3 linked regions of the Homo sapiens genome follow. The protein of the gene in region 1 interacts with the protein of each later gene in a pairwise test. Each region holds a gene or a part of one and is shown on either strand. Other genes may lie near its edges. The genes, in order: SNIP1, STK3 and POU2F1.

Evidence for each region.
Region 2: the proteins of SNIP1 (region 1) and STK3 interact in binary tests that used the Homo sapiens proteins (3 or more experiments, as listed by UniProt).
Region 3: the proteins of SNIP1 (region 1) and POU2F1 interact in binary tests that used the Homo sapiens proteins (3 or more experiments, as listed by UniProt).

What each region holds. Positions count from the first base shown.
Region 1 is NC_000001.11:37,547,708-37,551,360, forward strand, and holds part of SNIP1 (smad nuclear-interacting protein 1), read right to left. Parts: intron 1-3,653. UniProt on the Homo sapiens protein: Required for pre-mRNA splicing as component of the spliceosome. As a component of the minor spliceosome, involved in the splicing of U12-type introns in pre-mRNAs. Down-regulates NF-kappa-B signaling by competing with RELA for CREBBP/EP300 binding.
Region 2 is NC_000008.11:98,707,040-98,710,692, forward strand, and holds part of STK3 (serine/threonine-protein kinase 3), read right to left. Parts: intron 273-3,653; coding exon 108-272; intron 1-107. UniProt on the Homo sapiens protein: Stress-activated, pro-apoptotic kinase which, following caspase-cleavage, enters the nucleus and induces chromatin condensation followed by internucleosomal DNA fragmentation.
Region 3 is NC_000001.11:167,370,773-167,374,425, forward strand, and holds part of POU2F1 (POU domain, class 2, transcription factor 1), read left to right. Parts: intron 1-1,144; coding exon 1,145-1,264; intron 1,265-3,335; coding exon 3,336-3,524; intron 3,525-3,653. UniProt on the Homo sapiens protein: Transcription factor that binds to the octamer motif (5'-ATTTGCAT-3') and activates the promoters of the genes for some small nuclear RNAs (snRNA) and of genes such as those for histone H2B and immunoglobulins.

The sequences.
Region 1 (3,653 bases):
TGGGCAACAGAGCAACACTTCACCAAACAAACAACAACAACAACCAAAAAAAAACACAAAATGGTGGTTCAGAGGTTGAGAAAAGAATAAAGTAATCATTTGGTATCCTCAGGAGATTGGTTCCAGGATCCCCAGTGGATAAAAAAGATTATCTCAGGGCCAGGTGCAGTGACTCATGCCTGTAATCCCAGCACTTTGGGAGGCCAAGGCAGGTGGATTACGAGGTCAGGAGATGGAGACCATCCTGGCTAACATAGTGAAACCCTGTCTCTACTAAAAAAAAAATACAAAAAAATTAGCCAGGCATGGTGGCGGGCGCCTGTAGTCCCAGCTACTCAGGAGGCTGAGGCAGGAGAATGGCGTGAACCCCGGGAGGCGGAGCTTGCAGTAAGCCGAGATCGCACCACTGCACTCCAGCCTGGGCAACGCAGCGAGACTCCATATCAAAAAAAAAAAAAAAAAAAAAAAGATATCTTAGGATGCTCAAGTTCCTTATATAAAAATCTGTGAATATCCTTCTGTATACTTTAAATCATCACTAGGTTATTTATAATACCTAATACAACGTAAATGCTATATAAATAGTTGTTATACTGTTATTTGTCTTTTAAAATTTGCTTTTTTTTTTAAAACAGTCTTGCTCTGTCACCCAGGCTGGAGTGCAGTGGTGCGATCTTGGCTCACTGTAATCCCCGCCTCCCAGGTTCAAGTGATTCTCCTGCCTCAGCCTCCCAAGTAGCTGGGATTACACGCGCCCACCACCACACCCAGCTAATTTTTGTATTTTTAGTAGAGACGAAGTTTCACCATGTTGGCCAGGCTGGTCTCCTGACCTCAGGTGATCCACCCGCCTCGGCCTCCCAAAGTGCTGGGATTACAGGCATGAGCCACTGTGATCGGCCCAGACTCTAATCCCAGTTACTTGGGAGGCTGAGGCAGGAGAATCCCTTGAACCCAGGAGGCGGAGGCTGCAGTGAGCAGAGATTGCGCCACTCCAGCCTGGGCAACAGAACGAGACTCCGTCTCAAAAAAAAAAGAAAAAAAAAAAAAAAAGACGACTGAATTCTCATCCCTCAAAATTGAGAATAAGGCAAGAGTGTCTGCTCTCATTACTCTTTTATCTCTCCTTGCCTGACGCCATCCGTGTGATTTGCTCCTCCTTGCTTCCCACCATGATTGTGAGGCCTCTCCAGCCATGTGGAACTGTAAGTCCATTAAACCTCTTTCTTTTGTAAATCGCCGGGTCTCGGGTATGTCTTTATCAACAGCATGAAAACGGACTAATGCAAACAACAAAAGGAAATAAAATGCATTCAGATTGTAAAGGAAGAAATAAAACTGTCCCTATTTGTAGATATGATTGTCTACGTAGAAAATCCCAAGTAATCTTAAAAAAAAAAAAAAACTAGAATACATTAGTTCAGCAAGGATATAGGATGAAGATAAACACACAAAAATGAATTATATTTCTATATAGTAACAATGAACATTTGGACACTCATTTAAAATACCCTTTATAATCATTCCACAAAGAAATATGTATAGGATTTATAAGCTGAAAACTACAACCACTGATAAAAGATATCAAAGATGATCTAAATAAAAGGGGAGATACACAATGTTCATGGATTAGAAGATTTAACATAGTAAAAAGTCAATTATTGCCCCCAAACGCCAGTTTAACACAAATCCTATCAAAATCCTAGCAAGACTTTTCTTTCAGATCTCACTCTGTCGCCCAGGCTGGAGTGCAGTGGTATGATCACTGTTCACCGCAGCCTCAACCTCCTAGGCTCAAGTAATCCTCCCACTCAGGAGCTACTCAGCCTCCTGAGTAGCTGGGACCACAGGCATGCCACCACGCCCAACTAATTTTTGTATTTTTTGTACAGATGGGTTTCACCATGTTGCCCAGGCTGGTCTGGAGCTCCTGAGCTCAAGTGATCTGCCCACCTCAGCCTCCCAAAGTGTTGGGATTACAGGCATGAGTCGCTGTGACCGGCCCAGACTTTTTAAAAATAGAGGCAAGATTGTTCTAAAACTTACATGGATGAAAAAAGAAGCTGAATAGCTAAAGCAATTTTTATAAAGAAGACTACAATGGGAAAAATCAGTCCATACAATTTCAAGACTTATTATATAGCTATAGTAATCAAGACTGTGTGGTATTGGCAGAGTGACAGACACTGACAAATGAAACAGAACAGAGATTCCAGAAATAGACCCACACAAATATGCCCAACTGATTTTTGACAAAAGAGCAAAAGTAATTCATTGGAGGAAAGATGGTCTTTTCAACAAATGGTGTTGATGCAAGTGGACATTCATAGGCAAAAAAAACAAAAACAAAACAAAACAAAACAAAACAAAACAAAAACCCTGAAACCCTGAAAAGAAACTGAAAGCAGATCATGGACTTTTAAGAAAAAAAATTTAGGAGAAAATTTCAGAGATCTAGGGCTAGGCAAAAAGTTCTTAGCCATGACATCAAAAGCACAATCCATAAAAGGAAAAACAGATAAGCTGGACTTCATTGAAATTAAAAACTTTTGCTCTGAGATAAACCCTGTTAAGAAAATGAAGACAGCTACAGACTGGGAAAAAATATTTGTAAACCATTTATCCCCAAAGGGCTAGTATCCACAATATAAAAAGAATTCTTAAACACTAAACAGTAAAAAAGCAAATAATAGTATTAGAAAACAGGCAAAAGATAGCTGGGCATGGTGGCTCACTTTGCTGTAATCCCAGCACTTTGGGAGGCTGAGGCAGGTGAATCACCAGAGGTCAGGAGTTCAGGACCAGCCTGGTCAAAATGACGAAACCCCATCTCTACTAAAAATACAAAAATTAGCTGGGCATGGTGGCACGAGCCTGTAATCTCAGCTACTTGGGAGGCTGAGGCAGGAGAATCCCTTGAACCTGGGAGGCTGAGGTTGCAATGAGCTGAGATCGCGCCATTACACTCCAGCCTGGGCAACAAGAGTGAAACTCCGTCTCAAAAAATAAAAAATAAAAAATAAAAAATAAACAGGCAAAAGACATGAGACATTGCACCTGAGAAGATACATATAGATGGCAAATAAGCACATGAAAAGACGTCCAAGGCCAGGTGCAGTGGCTCACGCTTGTAATCCCAGCACTTCGGGAGGCCGAGGCAGGCAGATCACGAGGTCAGAAGTTTGAGACCAGCCTGGCCAACATAGTGAAACCCTTTCTGTACTAAAAATACAAAAAATTAGCTGGGCGTGGTGGTGGGCATCTGTAATCCCAGCTACTCAGGAGGCTGAGGCAGGAGAATCACTTGAACCTGGGAAGGGGAGATTGCAGTGAGCCAAGATCACGCCATTGCACTCCAGCCTGGGTGACACACACACACACACACACACACACACACACTGACACACAAAGAAAAGATGTCCAATATCATAAGCCATTAGGAAAATGCAAATTACGGGAAGCTGAGGCAGGAGAATCGTTTGAACTCAGAAGGCGGAGGTCGCAGTGAGCCGAGATCGTGCCACTGCACTCCAGCCTGGGTGACAGAGCCAGACTCTGTCTCAAAAAAAAAAAAAAAAGGAAAACGCAAATTAAAATCACAATGAAATACCACTACACGCCTATCAGAATGGCTAAAATAAAGTGATAACTTG
Region 2 (3,653 bases), on another chromosome or scaffold:
AACTACACATTTCTTTCCATTCCCCCTCAAAAAGTAATTGAAGTTTAGTTATAATCAAATCTGAACAAATTAGCCAAGTGTTTAGAAAACCATTAAAGTTAACTTACTGTTAACTGACCAGCCACTCCAAAATCTGCCAATTTTGCATGTCCTTCTGTATTGAGGAGAATATTTCCAGCTTTTATATCTCTGTGTATTTTTCTCATAAAGTGCAAATATTCTAGTCCTTTCAATGTAGATTTAAGAATGGTTGCAATTTCATCTTCTATTAACTGGAAAGAAATATTTTTAAAACCATAATTAAAATGCCACGTTAGATAAAATCTTACGAAAGAGCACTAGTAACAAGTATGTCTTTCCGTGTGTGTGTGTGTGTTTTTTTTTAAGAGACCCCACTCTGTTGCCCAGGCTACAGTGCAGTGGTGTGATGATAGCTCACTGCAGCCTAAAATTCCTGGGCTCAAGGCATGCTCCCACCTCAGCTTCCCGAGTAGCTAGAACTACAGGCACATGCCAACCCAATAGGCTAACTTATTTTTATTTTTGTAGAGATGGGGATCTCGCTATGTTGCCCGGGCTGGTCTTGAACTCTTTGCTTCAAACAATTCTCCTTCCTCAGCTTCCCAAAGTGTTGGGATTATAGGTGTGAGCCACCATGCCTAGCCACAAGTACTTCTTTCTAATGACCGCTAAACCTCCAGGAAAATGCTAAAGGGGTAAATAATCGAGAACCTCTTCTTCCCACAATAAGCTTTCTTATTACACATTTTACTAATGAAAGGATGATCAAATTTCTCTCTTTAAGATTATCAGTATCAGCAGGGCGTGGTGGCTCACACCTGTAATCCCAGCACTTTGGGAGGCTGAGGCGAGCAGATCACTTGAGGTCAGGAGTTCAAAACCAGCCTGGCCCACATGGTGAAACCTCGTCTCTACTAAAAATACAAAAATTAGCCAGGCGTGATGGCGTGCACTTGTAATCCCAGCTACTCAGGAGGCTGAGGCAGGAGAGTCACTTGAACCTGGGAGGCAGAGGTTGCAGTGAGCTGAGATCACATCACTGCATGCCAGCCTGGGCGACACAGCGAGACTCCATCTCAAAAAAAAAAAAAAATTATCAGTATCATTCCTAAAGCAAACAACATATCTCAAGAATCAGCCTGATATAAGGAATCATAATAGTGATTTCCCACATCTTCTAATACTGGGAGGGCACTATCACAGCTAATATCTGTTCTGAAAAAGTAAATTCAGATACTTCCCCTGAGATATTTCAGATTCTTGATGAAAATGAAACCAACAGCTTTACATAAAGGAAAGTAAATGAGGGAGGGAGGCTTGCAATGAATCTTCTGCGAGAAGCTCCTACACCAATGCCACTCCTAACCCTTCCAAGTTCTGGACTTCTGACCTAATATTGAGAACTCAGAAGAAAAAACGTCAGAGAAAGATTAGGAAAATGGAAACACAAGCAAAGACTATCAGAGGAGGGAAAAAGGGGAGAGTAGAGAAGGCCGAGGAAGAGACGGATGGGAAAGAAAGAAAATCTTCTTAACAGTTGTAGCAGTAGAGCCACTGCTATCTGTACCAGGCAATGTGCTAAGAGTTATGCATGCATTCTCTCATTTATTCTTAAAACAACCTTGTAAGGTAGTGTGATATTATGAAATCACAGGAAATATTTGGTCTTTGTAGGTTCTTGGCACAAAATCTCCTAAGACCCTGTGAATTGACTGAGTGAGTGAGAAGTTGAATCAAGATATTTTATCTTTGTTTTCTCACCCTCTCACAAGAGTGAGAGGGGCTGTCTTTTGTCATTCATAATAAGCTCCTTTCAACCATACCAGAATTTATACTGATCAGGTGACTCTTGGTGGGAGCCTAGATAGCTTCAGGATGGGAGCTGGTTGCCGAAAAAACCAACCAAGTGATTAGATGTTTGGAAATTTCTGCCTGACCCCTGACTTACGGGAGGGCTGCAAGGAGAGAGGGGGTAGAGATTTAGTTAAGCACAAATGTCCAAAGACTTAATCAATCATGCCTATGTAACAGAATCAACCATAAAAATTCTAAATGATTAGGGACTGCTCTCAAGCTTATATTCTATCTATAAGCAACGGGATAATTTGATAGAAAATAGGATAACACAGGAAAATGTCTGTGAAAATTGCTATGAGGACAACAATAGAGAGCTACTGATAGAGAACGACTGAGAAGCTACTTTAGATTGACATTCAAGAAGGCCCAAAAGACATTTTACTGAAGTCTAAATGATATAATGGGGCCAACCATGTGAATGGCTATCTGGGAACATACACTCCACAAAAAGGAAAAAAAAAGATTAAAATATCTTGATTCAACTTCTCAAATTTTCTAAAACACTGAAGAAAAGAGAACACTTCCACACTCATTTTAAGAGGCATTATTCTGATATCAAAGCCAGACAAAGTTACCACAAAACAACTAAGACCAATATCCCTTATGAACATTGATACAAAAATCCTCAACAAAATATAGCACACTCACTTCAACAGGATTGTAACAGGTTATACACTATGACCAACTGGAATGTATTCCTGGAATGCAAGGTTGATTCAACATACAAAATCGAACAATGCAATACACCACCTTAACAGAATGGAGAAGAAACCACATGATCATTTCAAATGAAAACAGAAAAAGCATTTGATTAAATTTAACTTCTTTTCATAAAACACACAACTAATATGAATAGAAGGAAACTATCTCACCATAGTAAAAGCCATATACAAAAAACCCAAAGTAAATGTCATACTCAAAGCAGTAAGACTGAAAGCTTTTCCACAAAGATCAGGAACAATGAAAGGATGCTATTAGGTTGGTGCAAAAGTAATCGCAGTTTTTGCCATTTTTTTTTTAAAGTAATGGCAAAAACCGAAATTACTTTTGCACCAGCCTAATACTTCTGTTACATATAGTACTGGAGGTTCTAGACAGAGCAATTAGGGAAGAAAAACAAATAAAGGCATCCAAACTGGAAAAAAAGAAGTAAAATTATCTCTGTTCACAGATGATATGATCATATATGTAGAAAATTCTAAAGATTCCACAAAAAAAACCTATTAGAACTAATAAATAGGGATGGAGACAAGACGGCTGAATAGGAACAGCTCCAGTCTAAAGCTCCCAGCGTGAGCATTGCAGAAGACACATGATTTCTGCATTTCCAACTGAGGTACCAGATTCATCTCACTGGGGAGTATCGGAAAGTGGGTGCAAGACAGTGGGTACAGTGCACTGAGCATGAGCTGAAGCAGGGCGGGGCATCACCTCACCTGGGAAGTGCAAGGGGTCAGGGAATTCCCTTTCCTAGTCAAAGAAAGGGGTGACAGATGGCACCTGGAAAATCAGGTCACTCCCACCCTAATACTGTGCTTTTCCAATGGTCTTAGCAAACGGCACACCAGGAGATTATATCCCGCGCCTGGCTTGGAGGGTCCTACACCCATGGAGCCTCGCTCACTGCTAGCACAACAGTGTGAGATCAAACTGCAATGCGGCAGCGAGGCTGGGGGAGGGGCGCCTGCCATTGCCCAGGCTTGAGTAGGTAAACAAAGCAGCCAGGAAGCTCAAACTGGGTGCAGCCCACCACAGCTCAAGGAGGCTGGCCTACC
Region 3 (3,653 bases), about 130 Mb from region 1:
TAGGCTTCTAATAATTGTAATTAAACCTGTTTGTAGATGTTGGTGGATAGACAATCAAAATCTTAAAACTTAAATCTGGCCACTTTCCTTCTTTGAACCATATGGCACAACATGCAAAGTTCAAGTGTTAGACATTGCCCTCTTAATATTTCTATCAACCTGCTGGTTCCTTTCATTATAGTGTTTAGGTAACTAGCAGTCAAGAGGGAAAGACAGTATTATGGAAGATTGATTTCAGTGTTGCTAATGACTAAAGACCTTGGGTTGAGCATTTCATGAAACCCAGTTGAATATGGACCTAGTAACACGTAGGAACAAGGAGAGAAAAGAAAAAGAGATAATGTGACCTTACTTTCTGAGGGAGAGGAGGCGGAAAATTGCCTTGGTTGCCATGGTAAACTTTCATCCCTTAGAGAGATGTTGGCAAACAGGCTGTATCTCCAGTGCAGAATGTTTACAGTCCTGCACTGTAATTATCTCTCAATGACTGGCAGAATTAATCAGAGCATTTATGTTAATTAGCCTTGCTGCAGTCCCCAAAACAGGTGGTGAGAAATATGCAAATCTATGCAGAATTTTAATGCTTTGCATAACCAGTTTTAATTACCGTAAAATTTTCTCTTCGTGCCCCTCTCTCTTGACTGCAGCATTTTCTCTCTGAGCTTGTGTGTTAGTTGATGGGAGTTGCTAGATTTACCGTTCTGTAAAATATTAGGTGGAAAGTTCTGTGGATCAAGTGATCATTCTCTGAGATGGTATATGGAGAAGTTTCAGACTGACCACCAGGTGTATGTTAAAATATTGGTTTGGAAGGTCTAATGTAGAGGTGAATTGAAAATATATTCTTCCCTTTACCCCCTATTTCTAGAGTTGAGGAATTGGGGGCTATGAAAAAAATCTATAAATTTGTGGGGGATGACTTTATTTTTAAAAATTGTAATAGCAGCTTTGCTGGCATTAGAATTAACAAGTTTAAAAACTTGGTATGTGAAACTAGGAAAATACAAATAAAAGAAAGGAGGTAAACCAGAACTCATGACTGAATAAGCTCATGTTTTAAATGATTCCTAAAAGATGGGGTTTTAAGTACATTTCTTTTAATCAACCATTTGCAATCTTTTATTTCCTACCCACCCCACCTCAGTCTAAATCTAATGAAGAATCGGGGGATTCGCAGCAGCCAAGCCAGCCTTCCCAGCAGCCTTCAGTGCAGGCAGCCATTCCCCAGACCCAGCTTATGCTAGCTGGAGGACAGATAACTGGGGTAAGTGTTCACTGAGAGAATTATAACAAACTTTTTCTGTGTCAGAACTGCCATTGGCCAATAGCTGATTAGAATTGTTCACCATAGCTGGTAGTAACATGGCTATGCCTGGCACTATTGTGTCTTTAAGGAACTTCCTACACTGTAGGTAGTAAGTTGCTCTGAAAAAGGAATTATCTTTGTCGTAAGTTTTCAGGATATCTTTTATTAGAATTGTGGATGCTCTGGATAAATTAAAAACCTTATTAAACCCCTGTTTCAGGTGTTGCTTCATCATGCAATGGAGTAATTATCATATGGTTGAGATCATTACACTGAAAATGGCAGTTATCCATTTGGCATTAAGACATCACTGCAGGGTAGAAGTTAAAGAATGGATTAGTACCTGCAAAAGAAAAACATTTTTCTTTAAGTTACTGTGTAATGATCTAAAATAAAGCATGTGGCTTCATATCCTAGCTCTGCAACTTACCGTATGGCCTAATTACTTCATTTCCCTCTACCTGTTTTCCTTCTGTTAAATGGAGATACTAATAATACCTATCTCACATTACTGTTGTAAAGATTGGAGATAATACATGTAAAACTTATAGAACGGTGCTTGGCATGTAGCATTCAACAAATATTGTTTATTTTTGTACTTGATCTTAGCCAAAAGGCTGAGACGTTCTGTCATTTATTTTTTATGGTTAATAAATTGGCCTGTTTGGCTATATTAAGCTTTTAAGTTTTCAGCTGTCTTTTCTCTAAGGCACCATTCAAAATATTTTTCCAATGTTGAAAATTTGTGTATTAAATTATCTTTGTGGGGGTTGGTTTAGGGCAATGGTAAGGAATAGTTTTTATTCAATTCACATCACATTAACTCCCAAGAATTTCCTAGGGTTTTTTGTTTTCTTTCTTTCTTTCTTTCTTTTTTTCCCAGTTAAGTGTGTTTTGTCAGTGGACAACTGTTTTAAGAACTGTTGCAAAATTGTTCACAAAATCCCATGAGTAGAGATGTATGTATATATATATTATGTAAAAATTAAAAATATATCTATACTTTATATACACACATATCCCTTGAAGGGTATTGAGTTTTTGAATGGTTTGGTTTTGAGCCTTATGTTTCTAATGCACAAATTGTGTTTGATTCTTTTAGAGGAGGTTGTGGCACTAAGTGACTGTACATATACTTCAGAAAATTATGGTTCCATCTTGTTTGATCAATCAGAACTTGTCACCAAAAGAAAAGTAGAACACATTTACTACTTTAAGTGTGTTTGAAATAAGTTGCATTATGAAAACAACTTTAAATATGCTCTAAATACATTTCCTACTTTACTATTTGGGTCTTGTTTTTGGTGACTAGTGTCTACAATAGTAAGAGGGAGTTGGGATTCTAGGTTCCTTTGGCTGGAGCTTCTGTTAAACCTGGGCATTAGGGTTCATTTGCATGTAAAGAGAACGGCTATCACCACCTGTTTCATAGAGATAATGTGTTGGAAAGGAGATGTAAAGTTGCAGAGACTCAGTGCTTTCAATAACAGAAAAGATTGTGTTAGGGAGGGGCCTGTAGGGAGACTTGGAAAAGAAACAAATGGAGCTCATATTCTTTAGTCATATCTTTGGACTTAATGGAAATGATGGAATATGGCAGGGATTCATGCTAATGGGAAGCAGCTGGGCCTTATCAGTTCTTTCCTTGGTTATATCCAGCATCCTTGTTCCTCATTCATCTGACTAATCACTTGCTGTTTGGTTGTGTGTAAATGTATTTTCATATCTTGTCAGTGGTGATTCTTTTTTTTTTTTCTTGCTTACTAGTTAATTACTTTTTTGCCCAAACCCTAGGGCCCTGGACAAGCTTGAATGATTAAGTCCATAGTGGGGACCACCATTTTAATTTAAATGTTCTGCTAGTAATGGTAGTTTGATCACTGATGAACATTTTAGCTGTCTGCTAAGCAAGTGAAGTTGGGTAGCTGGGGACTGATATCATTTGAGTTACCTATTTTAAAGCAGTTGGCTTGCATTAGGAGACTTTCTCCTTCAACACTTTCCCATAATGTGTTCTGGTTTTGTTTAGCTTACTTTGACGCCTGCCCAGCAACAGTTACTACTCCAGCAGGCACAGGCACAGGCACAGCTGCTGGCTGCTGCAGTGCAGCAGCACTCCGCCAGCCAGCAGCACAGTGCTGCTGGAGCCACCATCTCCGCCTCTGCTGCCACGCCCATGACGCAGATCCCCCTGTCTCAGCCCATACAGATCGCACAGGTGAGTGAGGAACTCCAATAGCTGGGGCAGCAAGTGAGGAATAAAGTGGCAGGTTTTATTTAATGTTAGATTAACTTTTTGATTGTTAGTGTGGGGCCTTAACTGCCTGAGGAGCTCTAGATCAGTGAG